2 separate regions of the Homo sapiens genome follow, and region 2 is linked to region 1. The links come from fine-mapping of genetic effects on gene expression. A gene starts in region 1. The other region holds a variant in brackets. All regions are shown on one strand. Distances are between the middles of the regions.

Region 1 (2,911 bases):
AAGCAACTTGCACTTTTTCTTTTTTACTTAATAATATGTGTTGGGAGCCAGCCATGTGGTGTATGCCTGTAGTCCTAGCTACTTGGGAGGATGAGGTGGGAGGATCAATTGAGCCCAGGAGTTTGAGGCTGCAGTGAGCTAGGATGGAGCCACTACACCCTAGCCTGGGTGGCAGACCAACACCCCGTGTCTCAATAATAATGATGATAATAATAATATGTCTTGGAGGACATTTCTTCTTAGTAGGTACAGATATACTTTATTCTACATAATGCCTCATTCGCTTAGTCACTCTAGGTCATTTACTATTTTTACTATGAAACAAAGTTATAATGAATATCCTTGTACATCCTCCTGAACACATGTGCAAGTATTTCTCTAAAGTAGATCCCTAGAAGTAGAAATGCTTGGTTAAAGGGTACATGTATTTAACATCTTAATAAATATTTCTCAATTACCATCCAAAAAAGAGACGGGTGGGGGGTCTCTACCAAATTGCCCTCCCAACCGCCTAGGAGCGTTACTACCCTCAGGTAGGACCTCCTCTTTCTTTCCCTAGACATCTCTCTCCCTCATTCTCCACATAACGTATCTTTGCTCGAACCTCCTACTGCACCAACATCCCCATCCCCACTCAAACACGCACATTCTTGGTAAATATCTCACCAACTATTTGTAGAGAAAAAAAGAGGTCAACAAAGGCAAATGTTCTCAGCTTCCTACCCCCAAACCTACAAAACCTAATGTCTATCCCCTTCCTGTCTTCCTTCCCTACTCTTATAACGGCAGTAGGAGGGCAGTCCTTCCTGTTGTCTAAAGGCAATCCTGGTTGAGAGGGTCCTTACCTTCACAAAGGGCTGACTACACTGACCAAAGGTCTCAGCTTCCACTCTTCCCTCCGCTAACCTCCATCTATTTTCTGCCCTCACGGCTCCATGGAAACCTCAGGCTCACCTTGGGCAGAATCCAGCTCCTTATCTTAGGTGACTAGTGCCTACTCCCTACTTCTGACAACATTCTTCATAATGCCAGTCTGCTGATTTTCCTCCTCAGGCTCTCTGGCACTTCTTTCTCACTCCTCCACTCCTCAGGTACTTCTTGTCCAAACCTTAAAATCTGAGTTTGGGGTTTCCGATCTGGGCCTTGTGCTCATTCCCCCTGGGAGATGTCACCCATTCCCCACGTGCAGCCACCATCACCCTCTGTTTTCTCTCTAATCAGCGTCTTCAGCCCTGATCGCCTACAAGTCCGAATTTGACTTCACTTTCTCGCATTCTGCCCCGCCTTCCCTCCACTCCTCCCCAATCCCGAAACCTAGTCCCTCCTCCGGGAAGTCTTTCCTGACTCCTCCCCCTTCTAACTCCCCACCGACGGTCTGTGTCCGCTGCCACGCGTGTCCAGTACCTCGCAGACCTGAGGAATGTAGTTCTCCTTGAAGTAGTTCTTCAGCCTCGGGTTGGCATTGCGTAGCGAGGCCATGGCCCAAGGCCTGACGGAGAAGCTGCGATAGTACCCTCCCCGCGCTGGGACTAGGGGCCGGGCGCGTGCGGGCGTTGTCCCGGCAACCAGGGGGCGGGGCTGGGCGTGGCACCGCCCCGCGCTCCGCTGCCAGGGGCGGGAGGGAGGAATGGTTGCTTCACGCCCCGGGGGAAGAGACGGGAAGCTCGGCTCTGGGTTGCGGGCCCCGGCGTCTCCGCGTGGGGCGCACCGTCCGACCCCCCCCTCCCGGTGTGCAGCGCCCCGCACCGCCCCGCCTCGCCTGGGAGAAGCCGCCGGGACGCGCCGGGCTGGAGTGGGCGGTTATAGGCTTTGAGCTAGGCCGTTTCCGGGAGGCGGAGCTCAGACCCCATTTCCTTTCTCCACATCCAGGTCAGGTGGCGTTTGCTGTGGCGGCTAGGCCCGCGTGCGCTGGAGACCTCCGCGCTGGCCCCCGCGAGCCTCCTGCCCTGGCCCGGCGCTGCGGCTCTGCCGCGGCGGCAGCATGGGTGGCCCCCGGGGCGCGGGCTGGGTGGCGGCGGGCCTGCTGCTCGGCGCGGGCGCCTGCTACTGCATTTACAGGCTGACCCGGGGTCGGCGGCGGGGCGACCGCGAGCTCGGGATACGCTCTTCGAAGTCCGCAGGTGGGACCCCGGGGTTTCCGGCAGGTGGGCGGGGACTGGGCAGGGGGGCTCCCCAGGCCGGGGTGGTGGCTTGCGTGTGCTCGGGGTAAAATGAGGAGCCGAGCTAGAGGGAGAGGCAGTACTTGTGTGAGTGCAGGGTGCTGCGCCGCCCCCGCCGCCCCTTTGCTGACTATACTGGTATGAAAACTTGCCCTGGCTTTCCTGCCTGAGCTCCGCGTCACAGCGGAGGATTAGATTTCTTAAAAACCTGTTGATGGCCTCTCATTTTAAAGCTTGCTCCGGGCCTTTGTGTAACTAAAGGGATTCTCCCGATTGTGGAAGGGCTGTTGAGGGGCCCAGAGCCATAGGTCAATCTCTGCTTGCAGGTGCCCTGGAAGAAGGGACGTCAGAGGGTCAGTTGTGCGGGCGCTCGGCCCGGCCTCAGACGGGAGGTACCTGGGAGTCACAGTGGTCCAAGACCTCGCAGCCTGGTGTGTGTTTTGGAAATGGGAACAGTTGTCTGCGCGAGACACACCCTCCCAGCGGACAAATGCATGATTCGGTTTCTGTCCAAAAGTTGATCGGTACATTAAAACCCTCCAAAGGCATGTTTCACATCATGGAAGCTGTTAGGGAAATAATTTAAAATATCATATCTGCCATCCAAGAAACTCCTGTCCACAATTGTAGAAGAGAGCTAAACAGCTTCATTGTTGAATAAGCACAAACTAAATTGCCTCACACATCACGGGCAATTTGCTAATGGGATAGCAGGAAGAATTCTAATTCCTTTAAATGTAGCTGGACAGATA
Region 2 (2,911 bases), 95 kb after region 1:
TTAGTGTGCTAATTATCACAAGATTCTCAAAGTGCGCCAGACTCTAGGTGCTTTTGCTGTTTAAGAAATGTGACTGTAAAAACTTCCACTCATGAAGCTTAGCATGCATTGACTACCTACTATGGATTGGGCTTGATATTGAGGATAGAGAAGAACAAAACAAGTCTAGCAGAGCAGGAAAGTGTGTGTGTAAATACGTTGTAGCCACCACCCTCTGGAGTGGCTCTCCATTTCACCAAGAATCCCTTAGGCCCTCCCCAGCAGCACTCTTTCCCCTTCTATGCCCAGGAGCCTGCACCACAATTGTATTATGTGATGTAGCCCTGAATGGATAATGGCCCCTGCACAACCAGGCAACATTGTCTCTCCCAGGAATTTGAACCTTTAACTAAGAGTTTTAATTTAGCCTGGGCAAGCCTGGTGAATGACAGACTCAAAACTGAAGATTATGGAGCAGCCACTTCTGCTTGTTATGTTGGCTGAGAAGTAGAAATATAGAAATAATCAGTGTGCAGAGTAGAGTGCAGCAGAGAGAGAGAAACAAGGATGGAGGAGGGAGAAAGAATAATTAGATGACTGAATGAATCCTGGAGAGCCTTGCTTCCCACCAGTTGTTGGTTCCAGACCCTCCAGCCGCATTCCAACACCCCAGTGCTTGAGGCCCCCTACATTTCCTTTTTTGTGGTTTTAGCCTTGATTTTTTTTTTCTTTGGAACCAAGAGTTCCAACTAATAAATGAGTGTAATAACTTGTTATTGGCATTATAATGGAAGTGGGTACAGAACAAATTTTAACCTATCTTATTTATACAAATAGAGTACAGATGTCAATTGTACTTAATGTTAAATAGGCCAATGACAACTCATTTTTGTTCTTAAATCCTTTCCACTATAAACATTTATGCACAGCAACATTTGCAAGACACTGAGCCTTGGCAGTGAGTGTAACAAGATGCATAGCAATGGTGGGCAACCTTATTTTGATCAAGAGAAAATTAGGAAAAAGCAAAAATTACTTACAGGCTATATTTCTCTCTCATTCAAAATGGCTTTATTGTTGATCTTATGGGGAAAATTGTATTTTTGCAACTCAGGTGATTTATTTATTGAAGAGAAGAATGCCAACAAGAAAACTTTTTCGGCCTCTGAAAGATTATAACATGTTCCGGTTTAAGGATTTGTAACTCCAGACAGCTCTAATTGTCCATCTCTTATGTTTGGACTGCACCTTAATTTTCACCACATGAGTTCATCTGCATTAGCCCCAAGTATCCTTCCATCCCCCTCATCAACAAAATCTGGCCCATGAGGTATTATTATCCTCATTTAGAGGATATGGAGAAATTAAGGCTCTGTTTCAAAGCAAGTCTGTAAATTCTTTAACATTCTTCCCATCAAGAAGAGAGATCTATCTCCTGCCCTGGAACATGGGCAG[C/T]GCTTTTGACTGTCTCCGTGCATATAATATGGTGGAAGTGACACTGCTTGACTTGTGAAGCTGGATCACAATGGGTTATTGACTTCCACCAGCCTGTCTCCGGGGACAGGTGACTTCATGTAAGAAGTCCAGCTACCCTGACAGAGAGTCCACATTGGAGGGAGCACACTGTAATAGACAGAGGTGCCTGAGGAGCCCCGGCTGTTCCAGCCGCCAGCTATTTAGGTCTTCCCAAGTCAGGCACCAGAGAGTATGAATGGAAAGGCCTTCAAGAGAACTCTAGCCCCAGCCATTGTCTGATTGTCACTGCATGAGGACCAAAAACTACCTAGCTGAGCCCCATCAACCCCTAAAGAAGTGAAAGATAGTAATGACAAATGCTTGCTGTTGTTTTATAGCACCAAGCTCTGAGTGGTTTGTTGTGCTGCAGGCTCCAAGAGAAGTAACTTTCTGAGAGCACTCAGGAATTTCTTAGTGGAACTGGGGCTAGAATCAATTCACTGCATTTAATGCAGTATTAACCAGACAACTGTGTTGGGCCCTGGGGACCAGAGAAGAATTAACACACAGCCCAAGCCTTCCCCTGGTCTGAGCTTCCTCTTCCCACCTTCATATTCATGGCAGCTTCTTCTTGCTGGGAGTGGGATAGAGGAGCCCTAGGGCTGCTGGCTTCTGGAAGGAACTGGCTCCAGGGCACCCTGGCTATTCCCTTGCTCCATGCTGTGTGCAGGTGGCTCTGGCACCAAGAGGTGGCACCAAACCTGCTGCCAGCCTTGGCTTTCTCACCAGTCCTGCTCTGATGAGTTGACAGGCTGTGTTTGGAATTGAGCATGGCGGTATTACAAAGGCAAGTGGGTACCACACAACCTGCCCGCAGTGTTGCTTTGTTCTGATGAATTACACTGAGTCCCTGGATTCACATTTGGCTGGATTGTCAGGAAAAATATGTGTTCTGGGTGCCACCTGATCTTTTCATCTAGCTTCTGTCCTCAGGTAAACATTCCCTGTTAAAATTCTAAATGTTCATCTGCTTCCTCTAAAGAGATTGGTAAAAAGGCATAAAACACCTAAGAATCAGTGTTACTTGTAATGAGCCCAGGGCTGCCGCAGGGAGCACCATATACATAGAATACCAGGTGAGTGAGTGGGGCCCTCAGGGCTGAAGTATTATGCTCTAGGCCAGAAAAAGGATATTTTCTTTTTATTCCTGGGATACAGATAATGTATTTTCACATAACAGCCACATGTTTCATGAATTAAGCCAACAAATATTTACCAAGTATCCTTTAAATCCTTTAGTATTTAAAGTATCATTTTTTGCAAAAAAAAAAAAAATATGAGGGCCAACTTATTTTTGCCTGTCATGAAATCAAAGGCCAATTAAATAATCATTTCCAAATTTATATTTCTGTTTTATAGGTTTTCTTTATTCAAGGCATTCTTGTACAGTAAAGGGCAGGAAAAGGAGAGGGAGAGG

What was found. PIP is the estimated chance that this variant, and not a neighbour inherited with it, causes the effect. A credible set is the group of variants that fine-mapping cannot tell apart.
Region 2: its variant is the best candidate, but not a certain one, in a credible set for the expression of FBXL13 in whole blood (TOPMed, PIP 0.76).

The regions. Positions count from the first base shown.
Region 1 is chr7:103,073,292-103,076,202 of GRCh38, forward strand. It overlaps FBXL13 (F-box and leucine rich repeat protein 13), which reads right to left and starts at 1,505. Exons shown (of 21, transcript NM_001394494.2): 1 at 1,405-1,505. The coding sequence starts at 1,479. ARMC10 (armadillo repeat containing 10) reads left to right here and starts at 1,849. Exons shown (of 7, transcript NM_031905.5): 1 at 1,849-2,120; 2 at 2,486-2,590. The coding sequence starts at 1,982. RefSeq lists a silencer at 1,436-2,275 and an enhancer at 2,546-2,595.
Region 2 is chr7:103,168,089-103,170,999 of GRCh38, forward strand. No RefSeq gene overlaps it. Among named protein-coding and RNA genes, the nearest start is that of NAPEPLD, 20 kb to the left of the region's middle. The variant C/T (reference allele first, on the strand shown) is at 1,435.